3 linked regions of the Homo sapiens genome follow. The protein of the gene in region 1 interacts with the protein of each later gene in a biochemical or structural test. Each region holds a gene or a part of one and is shown in the gene's direction. Other genes may lie near its edges.

Region 1 (8,471 bases):
TATACAGGAAGTATTTGGAGACACAGCAAAATAAGTTATGTGAAAAGGGTCAGTTTCTTCCACTGTAAATCAGATTTTTGGGCTAGGACTGGTTGGAGTTTAAGTTAATAACGAATACTCAACCAATATTTAAATTAGCTTCACACTTCTGCCACCAACCAACCAACAAAACTCTTGGGGCCTCAAGGAAAGGGAAAAAGGACAAAAAGATTGACTCACAGTGTAAGAGTTTACCAATTACAACCAGGTGTAGGATAGCCTGTTCACTAGTATATCTGGAACCCTGGCAGATTGAAACAAGAGAAACAAATGATAGACATTACCAGTGAGTGGAGGTGGTATAAACCTTGCCCTCTGTCAGCAATTCTCTCTCTGGGAGTGGCAAGTTGGATGATGCTATTTTATAGAAGTGGCAAAGTAAAGAGCACTGGGAATCATATCTCAGTTTCTTCTATCTTGCTCCCTGGACCAGTAAAGTTACTCTGAACTTCCCTTGAAATAAAAAAACCTAGAAATAGGATTACTTACCATAACAACTTAAAAGAATACACTTAAAAAAAGTTGCACAGAAAAACCAAACAAGATTGTATAGCTCTACTTCATGTATTTATGAGTTGTTTCAGAAAAAGAACTTTGATCTTGCCAGGAGCGGTGGCTCATGCCTGTAATCCCAGCACTTTGGGAGCCTGAGATGGGTAGATCACCTGAGATCAGGAGTTCAAGACCAGCCTGCCGAACATGGCGAAACCCCGTCTCTACTAAAAATACAAAAATTAGCTGGGCACGGTGGTACGTGCCTGTAATCCCAGCTACTCGGGAGGCTGAGGCAGGAGAATTGCTTGAACCCGGGAGGTGGAGGTTGCAGTGAGCCAAGATCACTCTACTGTACTCCAGCCTGGTGACAGAGTGAGACTCTGTCTCCAAAAAAAAAAAAAAAAAAAAAAAAATTAGCCCAGTGTGGTGGTGCATGCTTGTACTTCCAGCTACTCAGGAGGCTGAGGCAGGAGAATCGCTTGAACCTGGGAAGTGGAGGTTGCAGTGAGCCGAGAGCACGCCACTGCACTCCAACCTAAGTGACAAGAGTGAAACTCTGTCTCAAAAATAAAAAGAAAAGAAAAAGAACTTTGATCTTATTGTTTATGTTTCAGACACATTGGAAAGAGAGAGAATAGAAGGGATTAAAACATTCTATTATGAAAATAGTAGCATGGTTCTAGTCTAGAATTTCCTCCTGATTCCACTAACATCATAGAAGTGAAAATGACCTTTTCTTGTCTTTTGTCTTTTCCCCAAAAATAACAAGAAGTTATCCGAAATAGCTTTGCACTTCTAATTACAATTCGAGACCTTTGACATGGCAAACAGTCTTCCAGTTTAGTGTGATTGTTTCCCACAAAACTGCCTCAGTAGGACTTGATACACTCAAAGCTCTTTCAGCCAATCATATCCTGAAAACAGTCTCATGAAGTGACTCATTTCTCAGGCTGCACACAACTAAGGGCACAGTGTTTTGTTTTATTCATCCTAGATACAGATTATGATCATTCTTTTCAGGTGGTGGACTCATCTGTGAGCCCTGGCAGGTGACCCAATTCAGAAAGCCAGAAACTCAAAAGCTGACTAGATGTTTTATCTTTGCATATGGAGCTGGGCCTACCAGATTAAGATCCAGAAATTCAGTAGGCTGCTACAGTTTAACTCGTAGCTATGCAGAGTTAACAGTGAGTTCAAACCACATAAGGCTAGAGTAGACTTTCAGGAACGTGGCTTAAATAACTAAAAATTTCTCGCCTAGAATGTAGCAAGATGGAGTACTAAATGCCAAGACATTGACTTTTTTTTCTCCCTTGGATTTGAATATTACATGTCTGTAAAAGATCTGGATTTTAGAGAATGCTTTTCTTCATATTTAGTATTTTAGGCCCTTCTCTAATCACAAAAGATTGTAGGTAAGTATGCATATTCTCACTCATAGGTGGGAATTGAACAATGAGAACACAAGGACACAGGAAGGGGAACATCACACACCGGGGCCTGTTCTGGGGTGGGAGGAGGGGGGAGGGTTAGCATTAACATGTTAAATGACGAGTTAATGGGTGCAGCACACCAACATGGCACATGTATACATATGTAACCTGCATGTTGTACACAAGTACCCTAAAACTTAAAGTATAATTTAAAAAAAAAGATTTTAGGTGAGTATAATCAGAACTTATGCCTTCATAAATACATAGTCTTAATAAAATCATTTACATAATAATTTCACAAAGGGAAAATAGTGTAGTTCTATACCAACCATTTGCTCTAATTTGTTATTCTCTATTTTGTTTCACCTTGCTGCCTGCTTTCTAGAAAGAAGGAATAACAATATCCATTCTTTGAATATGTTTGTCCCCATCATCTAACATATAGTGCTTAATTGTGAATGCATGGCAGAATATATTTCTGAAAAATCTAGTAGAATAGCTTAGGTATACTGCTAGTCCCCTTCCATTTACTATATTGTACTACCACTATTAATAAGGAGTTAAGAAATTTTCATAACCAAGACATAGGAGTGTTAAAGTGAAAAAATATGCATACATTTTGACCCAGCAAACCTACTTTTCGAAATCTATCCCACAGAAGTAATTATACCATTGGAAACAATATGTCTACTGAATGGAGTAGATTTTGGTATAGCCATATCATGAAATATCAATATCATTCACAAGAATTAGTTGATATCCGCATAGATGTTCATATACTATTAAATTTAAAAATGTACGTTGCAAAATAATATGTATACTATAGTCCCGGCTAGGCACAGTGGCTCACGCCTGTAATCCCAGCACTTTGGGAGGCCAAAGCAGGCAGAATTACTTGAGCTCAGGAGTTCAAAACCAGCCTGAGCAACATGGTAGAACCCATCTCTACAAAACACACACACAAGAAGCCTGGGCAACATGGCAAAAACCCTATCTCTACAAAAAAAATACCGAAATTAGCCAGGTGTGATGGCACGCACCCATGGTCCCAGCTGCTCGGGAGGCTGAAGTGGGAGAATCACTTGAGCCTGGAAGGCGGAGGTTGCAGGGAGCTAAGATCGCGCCACTGCACTCCAGCTTGGGAAACAGAATGAGACCCTGTCTCCAAAATAAATAAGTAAATAAAAGACTAAGACTAATATATAAAATATAAAAATGCATGCTTATGTTTTTAGGAACTTAGAGAAAAATGTAGATGATATTAATTAACTGTTAACATTGGTTTCGTGGAGGACAGCACAGAAGAGCTCTGGGAAGGAGACGATAGGCTTTATCTTTGTGTACTTGTGTTACTGGCTTGTTGCAAGAAGCAAAAACTTTTTTGTTTGAAAGAAAAGTCCAATAAAATATTTAAAGAAAAAGAAACCCCAAAGCACTCTTGTTTAAAAATAAAAAAAAAAATCAATTGTACAGGGGTATATAAACCAGAAAGGGAAATCAGGTAATCTTCTTAGGTAACCTGCTTTATTTACTCATCAATATATCAATGGTATCTTTGTATGTCAATAAAGTAGATCTTGATTACTCTTTTAAATGGCTTTAGAGTATTTCATTGTTTGGATATATTATAATTTAATCAATTCTTTATTGTTATACATTTACAGTATTTCTAGTTTTTCTGGTTATAAACAATAACGGTTATCCTTGTATATAAATCATTGCTCACTTGTTCCAGAAGTTAAATTGCTGAGTCAAAGGATATGCATACTGCTAGCATACCTTCTAGAAAGACTGTAGCAGTTTGTAGTCCTACCAATAGTTTATGACATGAGCCTAAAGAATTATCTAAGGAGGTTAGCTGACTAGCCATTCTTCCTGTAAGCAGCAAAAAGAATTTGCTTAGATTAGTAATTGGCAACATTTCACTTCACTTTGATGTACAAAAGGATGTGGGTAGAACTACAATTGTGCATTCAGACATGATAATTCCTACTAACTGGGGGTAGGAGGGCCCACAGGAGTGTAGACTAGAAGTAGAAAGAATGAGGAAAATAAGTCTTTTGTAGCTGTATGGCGATTGAAGAGGAGATAAAACAAACTCTCCAGCTTTTCAGGTTGGGTGACTTGCAGCGCCATCGTCTGGCAAAGCCGCCAAAATCTTTCAATGTCCCTAGGAATAAAGTTGCCCTGAGTAGGGCCACTCAGGATGACGCCAGATGATATCCCTTATTATAGTTTTAGGGGAATCTCTTCCTACCTTCGCCAGTCCTGCAGTGAAAAAATGTACTTAGACTGCTGTACATTTCCAAACCCTTCAACATACAGACAAGTAATTTATACATACATTAGATGTAAAGGTGTAGAAAACCCCATACAGCTTTTTAAAAATATCTCAAGACTTAAACATTCTTCTGTTTCAACCATCCAAGATATAATAGGAAAAGACTTGCTTTTTAAAGCAAAATTGCTCTTTAAAATGTGGCATCCCTAAGTAGTGCGCTTTCATGTAAAATAAAAAAGTCCCTTTCTCGGTGTAGTAGCTGTGGGAAAATTTTATATGCTTTATATTCCAAATTGGTTTCAACTAGTGAGTTCTCTCCCGCATCTCTGCATGACTCTTAACAGCTTTACACTCTCTCCATCCTTTTCATCTCTCCCGTCTCGTCCTTTCTGTCTTCCCGCCTGCAGAGCCCGCCCCTCCCGTCCCTTCGCACAGCACCCCGCCCGCCCCTTCGCACAGCACCCCGCCCGACCCTACGGTTCTAGCCCAGCCTCACTGCTCCTTCCCAGCCGCCTCCGCTGCGTGCCGCCTTCCACGCGCTGACGTCACACGCCAGCGCCGGTGACGCGCCGGCCGCTCTCCCTTAGTCCGCATTCGCTCCAGGGTTTTGGGACCCTAGGTTGCGGAGTCCTTACCCTACCCTGGCCTCTCGAGCAGTTGTCCCCATAACTCGGAATCTAGAGCCGCTGTTGCGAGGCAGGAGCACGTGGCAGTCAAGTAGCTTCCCAGTCCCGAACGCCGCCCGTCCCCACCCCGCCGTGGCCACTAGCAACGACCTCTGTGAAGTTGGAGAGGCGGTAACGGAGGCACTCCCCCTGCTGCACCCCGCCGTTTCTACGGGGCTCAGAAACCAGTTTGTTTGTTTCGTCGGGGTAGTGTCGACCTGTCTTACGGGCGTCGCCCGAGACAGGACGGAGTCAAACCCGTGGTATCAACTGAAGACGAGTGTCAGGTGTGGAGAGTCTCAGTGCCCCCTTTCAGTCTGGACTGTGAGCTGCTGCTGGTTAGACAGTCTTGGTTTCTCTTTCAGGATGTCATTTTCAAAATGCGGGATGGTACCTCTGCTTTATTAAGCCCCGTAGGAAGACTGCCACACCTAGACTGATGCTTATTAGTCATCACCGTTATTCCTACTAACGTCCTGTGTCACTGAGGTGAGTTCCACTTGGGGGAAGGAATGACATGCAAAATGGTAAAAATCATCCTGGAAATGAGATGTGCGTAGAACTGCTTATATTGAGATTACACAGATACCTTAAGTGTTTGCAGGGAAAATACCTTAATCTCATTTAAATGTTAATTCTCTAAGACACTCTGTATTAACAAAGCGATTCTTGGACATTACGGTATTTTTAAAAACTAGAGCGGTAATGGGATTAAAATAATAGGAATCTTAGTATGGATAAGCAAGCATTTGCATTGCTTATGTTGTGTCCAATCTTAAATTACTGATAAATTTTAATTAGGAAGCGAATATGAGTAGTAGTTAGCTGGTTACCCTGTAATCTTAGATTTCTGTTTCCATGATTTGACACAGTTTCCATATGTAAGGCATTAATTGTTGTACTACTTTAAGAGTTTATCATAACTTTTTTTGCAGGCCTATTTTTTGTTCTTTAAGATCTGCTTTAGGAAGCAGAAATATTTTTTATTGCCTTGGTATGTTTCATTAGAAATGTTTATGAAGGATTAAAAGTGGCATCCAATCTAAGTTAATGACCTTTTTTTATGATGCAGCAGTATTGTAGAGCTGATGGAGGGGAGCCAAATTTGGAGAGAAGTAACTCCTTGTTTCTAGTTTACATTTGTCTGGTTTTAGAGGTTCTACAGATCTGTTTCACTTAAAATATCCATTGTTCTAGGTGAAATGTAAGGAGCCTATTTTGTGGGAAAACAGGTTTTTTTCACGTTAAAAGTCACTGTCAGGAATTTAATAAAGGTCGTCGGACTTGACCACAGAAGTTCTTTTGAGGTCGTGTGAATAGTACATTGACATTGTATTCCAAGTAAATTTTGCCCTGTCTAATCTCCTGCCTTCTAGTCTAAGTCATGAACATGACACCTTTTCACGAATGTACATTCTTTATTTACCTGTTGGTAGTTTCTACTACAAAATCTGTTGAATATTGTCTGAATAGACTTACAGAGAAGAAAAAATATTTTGAAAAAAGTCTAATAGAAATTCCATTTTTGCTTTCTGCTTTTTCGAATAAAGGAAGATAAAGAACTTTTTTCCTGAGAAGATAAATGGATCCCCTCCCACTATTCAAGATGGTATTTATTGCTTAGGCAGAACTGTATGTATGGATTGTAGCTGCATACAGCGCCAAAAGACTTCTTGAAACCTGTTGCCATGCCTTTACCATGTTTCCCTTCAAGACAGCCTGTCTATAGAATATCTGAAACACCTGATGAGAGCTTAATGCTTAACCTAAGTATGTGTTCCAGATTGATCGAAGTTGAGCTTTTCCATTCATATACTCTAAAATTGTTTATATGTGGCTCACAAAATTTTATTATGTCCAAAATTGCTTATTTGTGGCTTTAAAGAAATTCTTAGTGGCTGGGTGCTGTGGCTCTTACCTGTAATCCCAGCAGTTTGGGAGGCCACGGTGGGTGGATCACTTGAGGTCAGGAGGTTGAGACAAGCCTGGCTGACCTGGCGAACCCATATCTACCAAAAATACAAAAAATTAGACGGGCGTGGTGGTGCGTGCCTGTAATCCCAGCTACTTGGAAGGCTAACACAGGATAATTGCTTGAACCCGGGAGGCAGAGGTTGCAGTGAGCCGAGATACTGCCACTGCACTGTAGCCTGGGCGACTGAGTGAGGCTTGTCTCAAAGAAAAAAGAAAAAAAGAAAGAAATTCTGGGTCAGACGCTGTGGCTCACACCTGTATTCCCAGCATTTTGGGAAGCCGAGGCAAGTGGATCATTTGAGGTCAGGAGTTCGAGACCAGCCTGGCCAGTATGGCGAAACCCCGTCTCTACTAAAAATACAAAAATTAGCTGGGTATGGTGTCACACTCCTGTAATCCCAGCTACTTGGGAGGCTGAGGCAGGGGAATCACTTGAACCTCGGAGGCCGAAATGGCACCATTGCATTCCAGCCTAGGCAACAGAGCAAGACTCTGTCTCAGAAAAAAAAAAAAAAAAAGAAATTCTTAGTAAAATGTGAGGAAAGCTGTCTTATTTGACTAGAGGCTGAGGTACTTTTTTCTGGAGCATAGTTCATATACTTGAAAAGAAGCATGATGCCATAAGAAAACTTTGAATGTCAAAAGTGAGGAGTTTGGAGATGGGGAATTGTTGAAGGATTTTAATTGGAGAAATTGATTTAGCCAGTATTCTTACTATTTCTATCAGATATTATTGTTTTAATATTTATTGTTTTGAATAGATAATACATTTGTATGGTTCAAAATTCAGAAAGTACAAAAGATTGAAAAATCTTTTCAACTATTAAATGCCTTCTTTGTAGGCAGTATTACTAGTTTATTGTGTATCTCTCCATAGATATTATTTAATACAAGCCAGGGGTGCATGTGTGTATATATATACATATGTATATTTATACACATATATGAGTAACTGTAAGCATATATACTTATGTATTTCCTTTTACTAAACAAATGATAGCATGCCATATTTATTATTCTGATCCCTAAAAATCTAACAGTGTATTAAGAAATTATATCAGTTTAAAAGTTGCTGTGTTGACTGTATGTGAATGATTACATTTTGCTCTATTAGAAACAGTGCTGCAGAGGATAACTTTGTAGATACTTTGTTTTCCTACATTTGGAAATATTTGTAGGGTAAATTGCTAGAAATTGAATCACTACATCAAAGTTTCTGTCCCCTTATAATTTTGGTAGATGTTGCCAAATTATTTTCCTTAGTGCTTGTACCAATTTATAGTCCCACCATATTGTTTCCTGCTATTCCCCCACAGTACAGTACAATAATCAACTGTGAATTTTGCCATTCTAATTGATGAAACATGCCGTCTCTTGTGCTTTTTTAAAAAAATTGTGGTTAAATATACATAACATAAAACTTACCCCTTGTATTTTAAAATTGTATTTCTTCTTCTTTTTTTTTTTTTTTTTTGAGAAGGAGTCTCGCTCTGTCACCCAGGCTGGAGTGGAGTGGTGTGATCTCAGCTCACTGCAACCTCTGCCTCCCAGGTTCAAGCGATTCTCCTGTCTCAGCCTCCCGAG
Region 2 (7,663 bases), about 100 Mb from region 1:
AAACAAATGATATATAGAATGGACAAGGCATGCTTGTTTTTGTATTACTTTCTTAGAAACCTTAACTTTGTTGCCTGTGGCCTTGGCAACTCAGAGCTAAACCACAAAGCCACATTGGGTAGCTAGGGCCTTTCCTATTTGGACTTAGGACGCTGGAGTAATTTCATCATTTCTTTTCCTGGCTTCCTCCTGGCTCAGTATGAACATAAAATGAATATCAGCTGAACAATTCAAATGTATAGTAGACATTGACCTGGGTTTTCTGAGAAATATGAAATATATGTGACAATCAGGAGTGTCCCCCTCATTCATAGATCTAGGATGATATTAATGCAAGGTATATTATAAAGAAAAATAGTTATGTAGGTCTATACTCAGCTTATTTAATTTAGAAGGGCATCTATTTGTGCTTAAGTCCTGAATATATCTGTCATAGGCAGTAAATAGAAAAAATAAAAATTATAAGAATGAGTAACATCCAACACAGTCAGCCAAACACTTATGAATAGCAATCACTAAAGAGGCAAGGAAATTTGTAGACTTATTTTGTAAATGGGCACAACTCAAGTATTTTGAAGCCTACCTCAGTCTCTACTTTCGTACTTTGACCAAGACCCTGCTCTTTTCTGGGATTCAGTATTCTTTTTTGCCTCAATTTTCTGTACTTTCATAAACATTAGCAATCAATATTTACCTACTGGAAAACCAAAACAAAAACAAAGAACGTGAGCTCAAACTTGGTCAGTTTCATTTTAATAAATGTGTACCTGTATCATTTGTTCTCTAAAAATAGCCATTCTCTAAATGTTACTGTCCATCTTAAATTCTTCAATAGATCCCTCCATCTGCAGAATAAAATTCACATTCCTAAGGAGCAAAGCATGCTTTGTCCATCGTCGTCTGATTGCTTTCTCTTTTTGTGTTCACATTTTCATCCTCTCTCTTCCTTGAACTTCATTATCCAGGTTCACTACTTGATTTAGTTCTAGTTACTTGTTTCTCATATCCAAGACTACAGTCTTTAACTATTTTTAGCTAGAATTCTCTATCCTCCTCGATTAACTGCTTTATCTGGCTTCAAGATTCTGCTCAGGACTCATGGCCTCATGGAGATTCTATTTTCCTCTCCCATGAATCAACTAAAATGAACTAAGTATTCTCCTTCTGTCAATTGCACCTTCTTACTGCTTTATTAGCATATTCCTTACATGTCGTAACAAGTAGATTTTTATGTCTGTTTTCCCACGAAGGTTTTGACCTCCTTGAGGTCAAATGTATCTTTTATTTTTCATTTCATTCTGGATAATTTAGGAAATGCCTGCAAACATAGATATTTAATATGAAATACATTTTCCTCTAACAAACTTTATGTTCACCTATTTTCAGCATTCTGAATGTATGGCTATTCCTTGGATCTAGTCATCATACAGAAATTCTCTTCTTTCTAATGCTGAAATTCCCAAATGAAAAAATCTCTGTTTTTGTACTTCTCAAAATTGGTATCTTCTTAGGCCAGGTCTTTGCCTTTCTTGCCATCTCTAGTCATTCAAGCCCTCTTTTTAGTATGTTAGCTTAAACAATACCTGATGGTTTGCCATTTTTAACACAAACACTAATAATCCCAACCCTATCCTAACAATTCTCTTAACCTATTGATACTAAATCTCCGCCATCTTGCCATACAACTACTTAGATAAAAAAATCTGATATATAATCTCATATAAGTCATAATTATTGCTCGTGGATTTGTTATTCATTTTCATTTTCACATTAACCAAAAATTTCTGCTCTTTCAAAATTACATATATTTAAGATGTACAACATGATGTTTTGATACTTATATAGTGAAATGATTACTGTAGTCAAGCAAATTAATATGTCCATCACCTCACATAGGTTACTCTTTTTATCTTGTGGTAAGAACATCTAAAATCTACTTTCAGCAAATTTTTATTATACAATAAAATATTAATGATTATCATCCTCACACTGTACATTACATGTCTAAACTTATTCATCCTACATAACTGCAGCTTTGTTTCCTTTGACCTACATCTCCTTATCTATCTTCCACCCTGAACCCCTGATACCCATCCTTCTACTCTTTGTTTCTATATATTCAATTTTTAAAACAAGATTCCACATATAAATAACATTGTGTAATATTCGTCCTTCTGTATCTGGCTTAGTTGACTTAAAGATTCAACTATGTATAACCATGTCCTTCAATTTCAGTTGAGAACTCCCCCTTTCACCTCACTAGAACATTAAGACCATTTAACTTCAACTTCTCTACCTTTTATCTCAAACATGTATTGTATCTACTTATCTTCTTATTCCTTTTTGTTTTCTTAGGAAAACTGGTACATTTTTTATAGGTCTTATTCTTTTCTCCATGACTGTACAGGAACTTGTTCCATTAATTTACTCCCACTTCTTTGGTATGTTTCAACTCTTTCCTTATTGGCCTCTTTCTTGTAAGCTACAAGTCTTCCTTACCCTAAAAATACCTTCCCGTGGTTCTGATTATCCCTGTACACCTAGTCACAATCTTACAGTTCTCCTTATCTCCTCTTCTAAGTTTCTCAGAAGGGCAGTACACATATGTTACTTTTAATTCCTCACAAATTACTTACTTCTTAACCATTTGGAGTGTATCTCAATCAGCTGTGTAGCATTTCACTGTTGACCTCACTTGCTTCCTCTAGCAATGCAGGATATCAAGGAGAGGAAGTGGATTCTGTACTCTCTTATTCTTGATATCGCAGGTTTTTTTTTTTCCTATTTCCTTTTGCTATACCAGCCCCTGTAAAAGAAAGGATACTTGAATTTTGTTTTGTACAATTTCTTTTCTCACTTGATACTCTTTCCCTAGAGACCTTCACTTACTCCTTTGAAGGGAGAAATTACCTTTAAAAATTATACTCATGATTATTTCTTGAGTATCACATTTAATTTAAAACATCTTCTGGACACCTTCAAATTTACCACGTACAAGGTTTTACTCAGTGTTTCATTTCTAATTTCAGCCTGGTTTCATATTTTGATTTATAACATGGCTAACTTTTCAGTCACTCAGGCATAATATATTAATTCATTTCCCCAATTTTTCACATTTCTCGTATTTTAATGAGAAGTTTGTCTTTTTATTGCCTAAGATGCCCAGGACCATTTCCCTACTTGAGATCATCATAATGTCTGTCTTAGGCTACTGCAATAACATAACATAACAACTTCCTTTACTAGGTTACCTGATTTGTTGTCATAAAGTCATGAAATCCAAGAAATTTTACAATCCATTTTTCTTTCAAATCTCTAATATATTTGCTTCCACTGAATTATGTCACAGTGCATGCCTGACATTCACAGTCATCCATGATCTGATTCTATCAAACCTCTGCAATTGTAACTTGCAATGTATGCCCTCTGAATATCCTCAAACTGGTATGTTGCTCTTTCAGTTCCTGTGTTTTCTTCAGCCAAAATATCTATCCCCATTTAATCATCTCGCAAAATTCTACTCATTCTCTAAGGCTCAACTAAAAGAGCAGTTCCTTAATGGCAAGCTCCCCTGCCACACACAGCACAGAGGCCCTACTTTTCCAATTCAGGCATAATTAAATTGTACATATTTCAACCAAATGCTACATTGATAGATAAATTTTATAAAAAATTATCAGAAGGTTAAAACATGGGCTCTGAGACTCACATGTGATCAAACAGAATCACATGTAGTCAGACAGATCTGAGTCCAACTGGTATCTTTGCCATTAACAATATGGTTTTGAGCAAGTTACTTAACCTTTTGGCATCTCTGTTTTCTCAACCTAAATATGAAGAGGAGAGCTACCTCATGATGTTCTTGTGCAGATTATACAAGATAATATCTTTGCTTAGTGCTTGGCAAAGGGTTAGAACTAAGCAAAAAAACCCATCATTAATATTATCATAATTATGCTTGACCTGAAAAGAGATAATCAATATTAAAAGGTAAATAAAACTCCGTGATACTTTGCAAAATTTTTATTACAGATTTACTGAAGATTTTGCCTATACCAGCCACCCAGATTCCCTCTTCAAGTTATTCCATTACAGAGGAAAGTTTATTTATCTTGTGTACAAAATATTTGTTTTAACTAAATTATTTTTTTTTCCAAATCAAGTGGCCCTGGGAGAAACAGTTTGCCTCACATAACTAAGCTACCATCATGGACTTGTTATCTTGTCAGTTTCTTCATTTCAGCATAAAGCACTAACAACTGCTTAGGTTCACATGAAACTGTGGCCTTTGTGAAGCCCTGTGTATATCTAGCGTTCACATACAATTTTCCCACAACTGAAATCTCAAGGCCCCACTAGGCCCTAAAGAGACCTAATTATGTCCATAATAACTTGGGGACAGGGCCAGAGTATCACTGTCCTCCAGTCATTGTCTTTTGTTATTGAATAATTGCATTTCCTGGACAGGTTTCTTTTATCAACTTGTGAATTGTTCCCTTGTTATAATGATGCCCAGAATTTCTGGGGATATGTAATAGGCAGAAATCATTTTCTAATCATGTGGACTTCTTGGAATTAAAGCTCGCTATTGATCTTATTTCAAATCACAAAATTAGTGTGTCATTAAATATAGTATATAAACAGTCACAGAAGCTGATGGACCATCATCCATCCAGCACTACCTTCACTTCTCTTCAATCTTGGAAAAACGGTAAGAATTTTAGATACAAATTTGTTGTATCTTCTCCTAACCATGTATTTCAAAGTAGCTTGAGCTATAGAAGGAACGTAGTTACTTAAAATATAGTGTTTGAAATAAAAGTATTTAAGGTAGTACTGAGATTATTTTTAACACTTAGGCTAAAAAAGATAGAAGTGCCCAGAAGAATTTGGTAATGACATATAGCCTTCATGAGTTTAAGAAAATATAATAGCTAATTTTATGCATATATATATATATATATATATATATATATATATATAGTATGAGGCTAGTTCATAGTTAATATTAAAAGGAGATTCATTTTTTTAATTAATCTTCCAATTTGATTTAGCATATCACAGTTATAAAAAGAATTATACTTCAATTATAGTATGGGTAGATAAATAATTACTGGAAAAGCTTTGTCCAGCAGGTAGTTTACAGCAGTAGCATACTGAGTTGAGAAATGGAGGGAATGGTATGGGGGCATTTACTACTTTAAATGTTTATAAACAATGTTTTTAGAAGAGTTTACTCATCAAACTTGTCTAGAGCCTCAAACTTCCCAGTTTATTATCTAGTTTGTAATATTTCAAAACAATATTAAAATGAGACAGAAATACAGAATTAAGTAAAAAAGAAACAATGTGGTTTACTTTGTAAGAAAATTCTTAATGGGGTAGAAAAGACTTGGAAACCATAAACAAAGATAATAGATGATATAAAAGAAAAAGTAGCTTAGAGTGTACCAGTTGATAATGAAGCTCTGGCTTAAAAATTAGTATATAAAAGTATACCAGTATGTAGTATATTTATAGTATAGAAATGAGTATAAAAACTAGTATAATTAGTATTAGTATATATTAGTATATTAGTATATAAATTAGCATTGTAATTATACATTCGTATATAAAATTATTATATATATTAGTAGATTAGTAATAAAACTAGTAAAGTTTATATTACTTATAAAATATAGAAAATGCTGTGGGATCTTCCCTATGTGTAATTATATATAATAGAGTGTTATATTCTGTTTCTGAACCCTGACATAAAAATTTGGGAACTTATAGTGGTCTTAGGCAAAGTAAAATTAATAAAAACTTAATTAACATTCATAAAAAATCTAGAAAAAATATTTGTTTTCTGTAATAGAATTATGTTCAACCTTCAAATATTGAAAAGAACATCTCTCAAATAAATTAAAGACTTTTTTGATGAAGTATTTTAGTTCAAAAATTTAGTTCAAAAATTGAGTTTCAATATCTGAGAATGAAGATTTGAGTGGTGAGTAATATTGTGGCACAAACATTATTTTGAAATAAATTACAAAAAAATGTAAGAACACATAACAAGGAGATGATTTAGTATATTTTGGTCAAAAATATTAACATATATTTCACAAGAAGAGGTAGTCCCAAGCTTAGCAGTGGGCAAGAGGCTCTGACCCCTTGGCGGATCATCAAGAGAATCGTGTGTACATTTCAATAAAGAGAAGAGAAGAAGCCTAGTGTACAATATCTAAAGTCATGTGGCATAAAGGAGAACAGACATTATTAGCTATGTGGGGAAGATGAATATAAACGGAGAAGAAACAAACTCAATAGTCCAATAAAGTCTCTGGATAGTGACACAAATAAGGAAAGTGTTAAAATGAAAACCTCAGTCTTATTGGAAATGAGGAGAAATAAACTAAAATAGTCATGGTAACCGTTTAGTGAAAAGAAAAAAGGTAAAAATAAAATGTGACTTTTTTGTACACATTTTCTTGATCAGTCTCTTCCAGTAGAACTGAGGCTCCATGAGGGAGTAATATCAGGACTGTAATATTTTGTTCATTGCTGCGGTCCTGGTCCCTAGACAGTGTCTGGCAAGAACAGATTCTAAAGAAATATTTTTAAGTTAATGAATAAATCTTTTTTTAAATTTTATTTGTCTTTTGAAATTATTATTATTATACTTTAAGTTTTAGGGTACATGTGCACAAAGTGCAGGTTTGTTACATATGTATACATGTGCCATGTTGGTGTGCTGCACCCATTAACACGTCATTTAACATTAGGTATATCTCCTAATGCTATCCCTCCCCACTCCCCCCACCCCACAACAGCCCCGGTGTGTGATGTTCCCCTTCCTGTGTCCGTGTGTTCCCATTGTTCAATTCCCACCTATGAGTGAGAACATGTGGTGTTTGGTTTTTTTGTCCTTGCGATAGTTTGCTGAGAATGATGGTTTCCAGCTTCATCCATGTCCCTACAAAGGACATGAACTCATCATTTTTTATGGCTGCATAGTATTCCATGGTGTATATGTGCCACATTTTCTTAATCCAGTCTATCATTGTTGGACATTTGGGTTGGTTCCAAGTCTTTGCTATTGTGAATAGTGCCGCAATAAACATACATGTGTATGTGTCTTTATAGCAGCATGATTTATAATCCTTTGGGTATATACCCAGTAATGGGATGGCTAGGTCAAATGGTATTCCTAGCTCTAGATCCCTGAGGAATCGCCACACTGACTTCCACAATGGTTGAACTAGTTTACAGTCCCACCAACAGTGTAAAAGTGTTCCTATTTCTCCACATCCTCTCCAGCACCTGTTGTTTCCTGACTTTTTAATGATCGCCATTCTAACTGGTGTGAGATGGTATCTCATTGTGGTTTTGATTTGCATTTCTCTGATGGCCAGTGATGATGAGCATTTTTTCATGTGATTTTTGGCTGTATAAATGTCTTCTTTTGAGAAGTGTTTGTTCATATCCTTTGCCCACTTTTTGATGGGGTTGTTTGTTTTTTTCTTGTAAATTTGTTGGAGTTCATTGTAGATTCTGGATATTAGCCCTTTGTCAGATGAGTAGATTGCAAAAATTTTCTCTCATTCTGCAGGTTGCCTGTTCACTCTGATGGTAGTTTCTTTTGCTGTGCAGAAGTTCTTTAGTTTAATTAGATCCCATTTGT
Region 3 (7,756 bases), on another chromosome or scaffold:
AGGGGGAGGGTCCCAACCCCACCCGAGTGGGAACCCCTGTGAGTTTCCTCAGACCCCCTTCTCTCTGCAGGGTGCTGGTGGATGCTGCCGTGGTGGCAAAGGACACTGTTGTGTGCACCTTTGAAAATGAAAACACAGAGTGGTGCCTGGCCGTCTGGAGGGGCTGGGGCGCCAGGGAGTTCGACATTTTCTACCAGTCCTACGAGGAGCTGGGCCGGCTGGAGGCTTGCACTCGCAAGAGAAGGTAATTCCTGTGGAATGACTGTCACACATCAGAGCTGGCTGGCCCGGGGCTGCAGCCTGACCCCTCTGCCATCGGCCTCTAGTTCTCCAAGGACCTAGAAGACAGATGGAGTTCTCCCCTGAACTCCTTGCTGCTAAGAAGTGCTGAGAAGTTACTCGCCTGGCGGTGGCTCCAGGGTTCTCTGGTTCTCTGGAGCAGAGTTCTCTGAATACCCCATCCCCCAACTGCTGATTTTACAGCCCCAGGGAAGACAGTGGTATCAGGCTGGGAGCGGCCTCCTCTGGCCTCCCCCATCAGTTTGCAGGAGCAGGGGTGCAGGATCCTGTTCTGAGCTGGGTCAAACAAAGCAGGGCCGGGCCTTCCTGCCATCCCCAGGTCTCAGATGGAATTACACTAGAGGCCCTCCGCTGGGAAGCACTTGAGGTAGGGCAGGAGGGGGGCTGTGACCCCTGCCCTTTCCCCGCCAGAGACCTCAGGCTCTCAGCACATTCCACAGGCTCCTGAGTCCCCGAGGCCTGGGCCAGCTTGGGCAAGCCAAGATCAGATGTCTCTGTGTTCGGGAAGGTCTCCGTGTGGGAAAGCCCTTGGGGGATCCCGGGTGAGGAGTGTTGCCCCATCCAGAGAATGAATGAGTTCCTTTAAGTGCCACCGCCAGCAAGCCCAGAGGCACACAGTCCGAGTGCACCCGCTTAGCCTTTACATTCCTCTCCACCGACAAAAGGAAGGGGAAACTCAATCAGCAGGACTTCAGAAAGGGCCTTGTGTTTATAGCTTTGTCAAGTAAATTTGGACGCAGCTGGAGCACAGGCCCTGTTTGTTTGCACATAATAATCTTGTTTATCACTTTAAAAAATTCAGTAATATCTCAGCAGTCAGGCTTCTGGTTGTGAAATCACATTGTATGGGATTTATACCAAATTATGTATTTGCTAAACATTCACTGCACACGTGTACAGCGGAGTACGAAAAGGAACGTTGTCCACAGGGGATTTATGGATACAACAGCAAACATTTTATAAACTATGCACATGCATTACACACATGCACACACATATGCACACACATGTGCAAACATAGCCACTTTTTTGTCAAGAGTTACCCTTTGGGGCTCCTTAAACCAGAATGGGAGTTTGAAAGAGAGATCATACTCCAGCTGAAGTTTGTTGACCCTTTTCTAAAATTAAAAAGATCAAATTTAGTATTTGCTGGATATGCAGGGAGATGAGACTCTTTTAATCTCAAAATAAACAGATTCTTTCAAGAACGAAGCTGTGGCCTCTGTCTTTTGAGCGCTTATGACCACAGCACGGGCTCAGTCCCTCCCAGACCCACTCGCTGTCTGGGGATAATGGGCAGCCCCTCCTTGCCCACTGTGCCAACATGCAGGTGGCCCCTGAGCAGCTTCCATGGGTGGAGACGCTGCTCTGTCAGTCACAGGCTTGGAAAAAGCGAGTCCCCCCACTCTTTTTTTTTTTTTTTTTTTTTTTTTTACCAACCTGGGCACCAAGTCCCAGGGGGCTGAGGGTCTGTGCTTCCTGTCTACCTCCCTGCCATTCTCTCACCCTCATCCCACAGCAGGGTCTCAGGAGTCCCACTCTCCCTCTCCTCTCATTCCAGTGCCCCACAACTGCCCAGTTAACCCCCAGATGCAAGCCAGATTCCATCTGCCCCAGGCCCCAAGCTTTTGCTTTGGCATCACGCGAGGCCAGGCTGCTTTGCAGGCACCAAAATTCACCCTCTCCTACTCCTGGAAAAGCCCAGCCCCAGGCCTCACAGAGCCAGGGGAGGGGATCTCATCACATCACAGTTAGAAATCATACAGGCCTAAAGTCCCAGCTACCCAGGAGCCAAGGCAGGAGGAACCCTTGAGCCTGGGAGTTGGAGGTTACAGTGAGCTATGATCACACCAGCTTTCTAGCCTGGGTGACAGAGCAAGACCCAACTCTTAAAAAAAAAAAAAAAATACAGGAAATGACTAATGAACTTGACTCCATGAAATTGAAACTTACGTGGAAAATTAGTCCAAAGCCTAAAAGACTAGCAACTGAGAAAAAAAAACATTGCAACACAAATGAGAGACAAAGACCTCACTTATCTTCATTACAGAGAGTTCGTAATGTCAATAAGAAACAGAAAACCGGAAAGGCAAACAGGTTAAGGGCATGGGCAGCAATTGAATTACAAAGAAACAGACAGACCCTTAAACATCAATGCTTGACCTCACCCAACAGCAGGGAAACAGTCTCCACAACAGTAAAATGTTGCTGGGATGGGCCCAGCATTCAGCATGGTCCCTGCAACTTTGGCCTCTGCCCAGTGACCTCTGGCGGGTGTAGAAGAGCTCATGCTTCAGTGAGGGGGTGGGGGGCACCCTGAGGACCCTGTCAACATCAGCTGGACCACAGGCATCTCAGATAGATGTCACTTACCACCCTCATGTTGGCAGAGGGTGGTAACCAGCCAGCATCTCCTTCTTAAACACCTACTAAGTGTCAGGCACTGTGACCGGAGACACAGTCAAGAATCTCTGTGTTTTTTTTGTTTTGTTTTGTTTTTGTTTTTTGAGACGGAGTCTCGCTCTGTTGCCCAGGCTGGAGTGCAATGGCGCGATCTCAGCTCACTGCCACCTCCGCCTCCCAGGTTCAAGCAATTCTCCTGCCTCAGCCTCCCGAGTAGCTGCGATTACAGGCGTGCACCACAATGCCTGGATAATTTTTGTATTTTCAGTAGAAACGGGGTTTCACCATGTTGGCCAGGATGGTCTTGAACTCCTGAGCTCAGGTGATCCGCCCGCCTCATCCTCCCAAAGTGCTGGGATTACAGGTGTGAGCTACCTGCGCTGGCCGAATCTCTGCTTTTAGGAGCTCACTCCTCATAGGTAGAGTTGACAATAAGCACACAAACAAGTGAGATAGCAGGGCAGCCGGACCACCCAGTTGGGCAATTCGTGGCTTGGCCTAGGAACGTTACATTTGACTGAGGCTGGCGAGGCCTGCAGCCTGCACCAGGAGGTACAATGTGAGACTGAGGAATGGGAAGAAGGCATTCCATGGAGCTCTGAGGGCACTGGGTGCAAGGGCCTTGCACATGCAAAGACCCTGTTGTGGGTTCAAGCCACTGTGTGGGAGGGACAGGAGAGCCTGGCGTGGCTGCGGCCTTGAAGGAGGGGACTGTGCACACAGAATTGCAAGTGGGGGTCTCCGCGGAAGCTCCTGGCAGTTTTAAGCAGGATTATTAGATGATTCAGTCAACTTTACAACTCACTTTGCTGAATGGAGGGTGGATTAACGAGGGGGTAGTTGGAGGCTACCCCTTGGAGGGCATTCTGGACTTATCTACCAAAATTTCAAATGCACATACCCTCTGACCCAGCAGTTCCACTTAAGTATTTGGTCCTGAAATCTTGGTAAAAGTGCCCAAAGATACAGAACAAGGATGTTCACTATAGCATCTCTTAGAATATGGCCCCAAACAGGAAGCAACCCCAACCTCTATCATGAGGGAGGTCATAAAATTCCTGCACATGCAACAGTGCCATCCTCTGCAGCCTGTCAAAGAGGCAGGCAGCACTAACTGCTGGACTGGAATGTTCTCCAAGATATAATAAATGCATTTGTTTGAAAGCAGCTTGCAGCACAGTGCGTCAGGCCTCTGAGCCCAAGCCAAGCCATCGCATCCCCTGTGACTTGCACGTATATGCCTAGATGGCCTGAAGTAACTGAAGAATCACAAAAGAAGTGAATATGCCCTGCCCCGCCTTAACTGATGACATTCCACCACAAAAGAAGTGAAAAAGGCCGGTCCTTGACTTAACTGATGACATTATCTTATGAAATTCCTTCTCCTGGCTCATCCTGGCTCAAAAAGCTCCCCCACTGAGCACGTTGCCACCCCCACTCCTGCCCGCCAGAGAACAAACCCCCTTTTTCCTTTACCTACCCAAATCTTATAAAACGGCCTCACGCCTATCTCCCTTCACTGACTCCCTTTTCGGACTCAGCCCACCTGCGCCCAGGTGAAATAAACAGCCTTGTTGCTCACACAAAGCCTGTTTGGTGGTCTCTTCACATGGACGTGCATTAAATTTGGTGCCGTAACTGGCGCGGGGGGAGGGGGGGGGGAACCTCCCTTGGGAGATCAATCCCCTGTCCTCCTGCTCTTTGGTCCATGAGAAAGATCCACCTACAACCTCAAGTCCTCAGACCAACCAGCCCAAGAAACATCTCACCAATTTCAAATCCAGTAAGCAGCCTCTTTTTACTCTCTTCTCCAACCTCCCTCACTATCCCTCAACCTCTTTCTCCTTTCAATCTTGGCGCCACACTTCAATTTCTCCCTTCTCTTAACTTCAATTCCTTTCATTTTCTGGTAGAGATAAAGGAGACACGTTTTATCCGTGGACCCAAAACTCCAGCGCCGGTCACGGACTGGGAAGGCAGCCTTCCCTTGGTGTTTAATCATTGCAGGGACACCTCTCTGATTATTCACCCAGGTTTCAGAGGTGTCAGACCACGCAGGGACGCCTGCCTTGGTCCTTCACCCTTAGCGGCAAGTCCCGCTTTTCTGGGGAATGGGCAAGGACCCCAACCCCTTCTCTCCGTGTCTCTACCCCTTCTCCGCCTTTCTGGGGGGCAAGAAACCCCCAACCCCTTCTCCTTCACCCTGAGCGGCAAGTCCCGCTTTTCTAGAGGAGGAGCAAGTACTCCAACCTCATATCTCTGCGCCCCAATCCCTTATTTCTGTGCCCCAACCTCTTATCTCTGTGCCCCAATCCCTTATTTCCATGCCCCCACCTCTTATATCTCTGCACCTTGATCCCTTATTTCCACATCCCGACCTCGTATCTCTGCACCCCGACCCCTTTCCCACTTTTCTGGAGAGTAAGAACCCCTGAACCGCTTCTCTCCGTGTCTCTACTCTCCCTTTTCTTTAAACTTGCCTCCTTCACTGTAGGCAACCTTCCACTCTCCATTCCTCCTTCTTCTCCCTTAGCCTATGTTCTCAAAAACTTAAAACCTCTTCAACTCACACCTGACCTAAAACCTAAATGCCTTATTTTCTTCTGCAATGCCGCTTGACCCCAATACAAACTCAACAGTAGTTCCAAATAGCCGGAAAACAGCACTTTCAATTTTTCCATCCTGCAAGATCTAAATAATTCTTGTCGTAAAATGGGCAAATGGTCTGAGGTGCCTGACGTCCAGGCGTTCTTTTACACATCAGTCCCTCCCTAGTCTCTGTTCCCAGTGCAACTCATCCCAAATCTTCCTTCTTTCCCTCCCGCCTGTCTCCTCAGTCCCAACCCCAAGCATCGCTGAGTCTTTCTAATCTTTTCTATAGACCCATCTGACCTCTCCCCTCCTCCCCAGGCTGCTCCTTGCCAGGCCGAGCTAGGTCCCAATTCTTCCTCAGCCTCCGCTCCTCCACCATATAATCTTTTTATCACCTCCCCTCCTCACACCCGGTCCGGCTTACAGTTTCCTTCCGTGACTAGCCCTCCCCTACCTGCCCAGCAATTTTCTCTTAAAAAGGTGGCTGGAGCTAAAGGCATAGTCAAGGTTAATGCTCCTTTTTCTTTATCCCAAATCAGATAGCGTTTAGGCTCTTTTTCATCAAATATAAAAACCCAGCCCAGTTCATGCCTCGTTTGGCAGCAACCCTGAGACACTTTACGGCCCTAGACCCTAAAAGCCCAAAAGGCCGTCTTATTCTCAATATATATTTTATCACCCAATCTGCTCCCTACATTAAATAAAACTCCAAAAATTAAATTCCGGCCCTCAAACCCCACAACAGGATTTAATTAACCTTGCCTTCAAGGTGTACAATAATAGAAAAAAGTTGCAATTCCTTGCCTCCACTGTGAGACAAACCCCAGCCACATCTCCAGCACACAAGAACTTCCAAACACCTGAACTGCAGCGGCCAGGCATTCCTCCAGAACCTCCTCCCCCAGGAGCTTGCTACAAGTGCCAGAAATCTGGCCACCAGGCCAAGGAATGCCTGCAGCCCAGGATTCCTCCTAAGCCGTGTCCCATCTGTGCGGGACCCCACTGGAAATCGGACTGTCCAACTCACCTGGCAGCCACTCCCAGAGCCCCTGGAACTCCGGCCCAAGGCTCTCTGACTGACTCCTTCCCAGATCTTCTTGGCTTAGCGGCTGAAGACTGACACTGCCCGATCACCTCGGAAGCCCCCTAGACCATCACGGACGCCGAGCTGCCAGTAACTCTCACAGTGGAAGGTAAACCCGTCCCCTTCTTAATCAATACGGAGGCTACCCACTCCACATTACCTTCTTTTCAAGGGCCTGTTTCCCTTACCTCCATAACTGTTGTGCGTATTGACAGCCAGGCTTCTAAACCTCTTAAAACTCCCCAACTCTGGTGCCAACTTAGACAATACTCTTTTAAGCACTCCTTTTAGTTATCCCCAGCTGCCCAGTTCCCTTATTAGGCTGAGACACTTTAACTAAATTATCTGCTTCCCTGACTATTCCTGGGCTACAGCCACACCTCATTACTGCCCTTCTTCCCAATCCAAAGCCTCCTTTGTGTCCTCCTCTTGTATCCCCCGACCTTAACCCATAAGTATAAGATACCTCTACTCCCTCCTTGGTGACCGATCATGCACCCCTTACCATCTCATCGAAACCTAATCACCCTTACCCCGCTCAACACCAATATCCCATCCCACAGCATGCTTTGAAAAGACTAAAGCCTGTTATCACTCTCCTGCTACAGCATGGCCTTTTAAAGCCTATAAACTCTCCTTACAATTCCCCCATTTCACTTGTCCTAAAACCAGACAAGCCTTACAAGTTAGTTCAGGATCTGTGCCTTATCAACCACATTGTTTTGCCTATCCACCCCATGGTGTCAAACCCATATACTCTCCTATCCTCAATACCTCACTCCATAATCCATTATTGTGTTCTGGATCTCAAACATGCTTTCTTTACTATTCCTTTGCACCCTTCATCCCAGCCTCTCTTCACTTTCACTTGGACTGACCCTGACACCCATCAGGCTCAGCAAATTACCTGGGCTGTACTGCCCCAAAGCTTCACAGACAGCCCCCATTACATCAGTCAAGCCCAAATTTTTTCCCTATCTGTTACCTATCTCAGCATAATTCTCATAAAGACACACGTGCTCTCCCTGCCGATCATGTCCGATTAATCTCCCAAACCCCAACCCCTTCTACAAAACAAGAACTCCTTTCCTTCCTAGGCATGGTTAGTGCAGTCAGAATTCTTACACAAGAGCCAGGACCGCACCCTGTAGACCTTCTGTCCAAACAACTTGACCTTACTGTTTTAGCCTAGCCCTCATGTCTCTGTGCAGCGGCTGCTGCCACCCTAATACTTTTAGAGGCCCTCAAAATCACAAACTATGCTCAACTCACTCTCTACAGTTATCATAACTTCCAAAATCTATTTTCTTCCTCATACCTGACATATATACTTTCTGCTCCCCGGCTCCTTCAGCTGTACTCACTCTTTATTGAGTC

What was found. The genes of interacting proteins can lie anywhere in the genome.
Region 2: of the proteins of NEK1 (region 1) and CSN2, one has a biochemical effect on the other in vitro, tested with the Homo sapiens proteins (one study listed by BioGRID).
Region 3: the proteins of NEK1 (region 1) and LRRK1 form a complex in vitro, tested with the Homo sapiens proteins (2 studies listed by BioGRID and IntAct, with this or other methods).

What each region holds. Positions count from the first base shown.
Region 1 is NC_000004.12:169,608,951-169,617,421, reverse strand, and holds the start of NEK1 (serine/threonine-protein kinase Nek1), read left to right. Parts: upstream 1-4,838; 5' UTR 4,839-5,200; exon of another isoform or gene 5,201-5,278; 5' UTR 5,279-5,402; intron 5,403-8,471. UniProt on the Homo sapiens protein: Phosphorylates serines and threonines, but also appears to possess tyrosine kinase activity. Involved in DNA damage checkpoint control and for proper DNA damage repair.
Region 2 is NC_000004.12:69,962,729-69,970,391, reverse strand, and holds the start of CSN2 (beta-casein isoform 1 precursor), read left to right. Parts: upstream 1-4,663; 5' UTR 4,664-4,711; intron 4,712-7,663. UniProt on the Homo sapiens protein: Important role in determination of the surface properties of the casein micelles.
Region 3 is NC_000015.10:101,068,601-101,076,356, forward strand, and holds part of LRRK1 (leucine-rich repeat serine/threonine-protein kinase 1), read left to right. Parts: intron 1-70; coding exon 71-248; 3' UTR 249-7,756.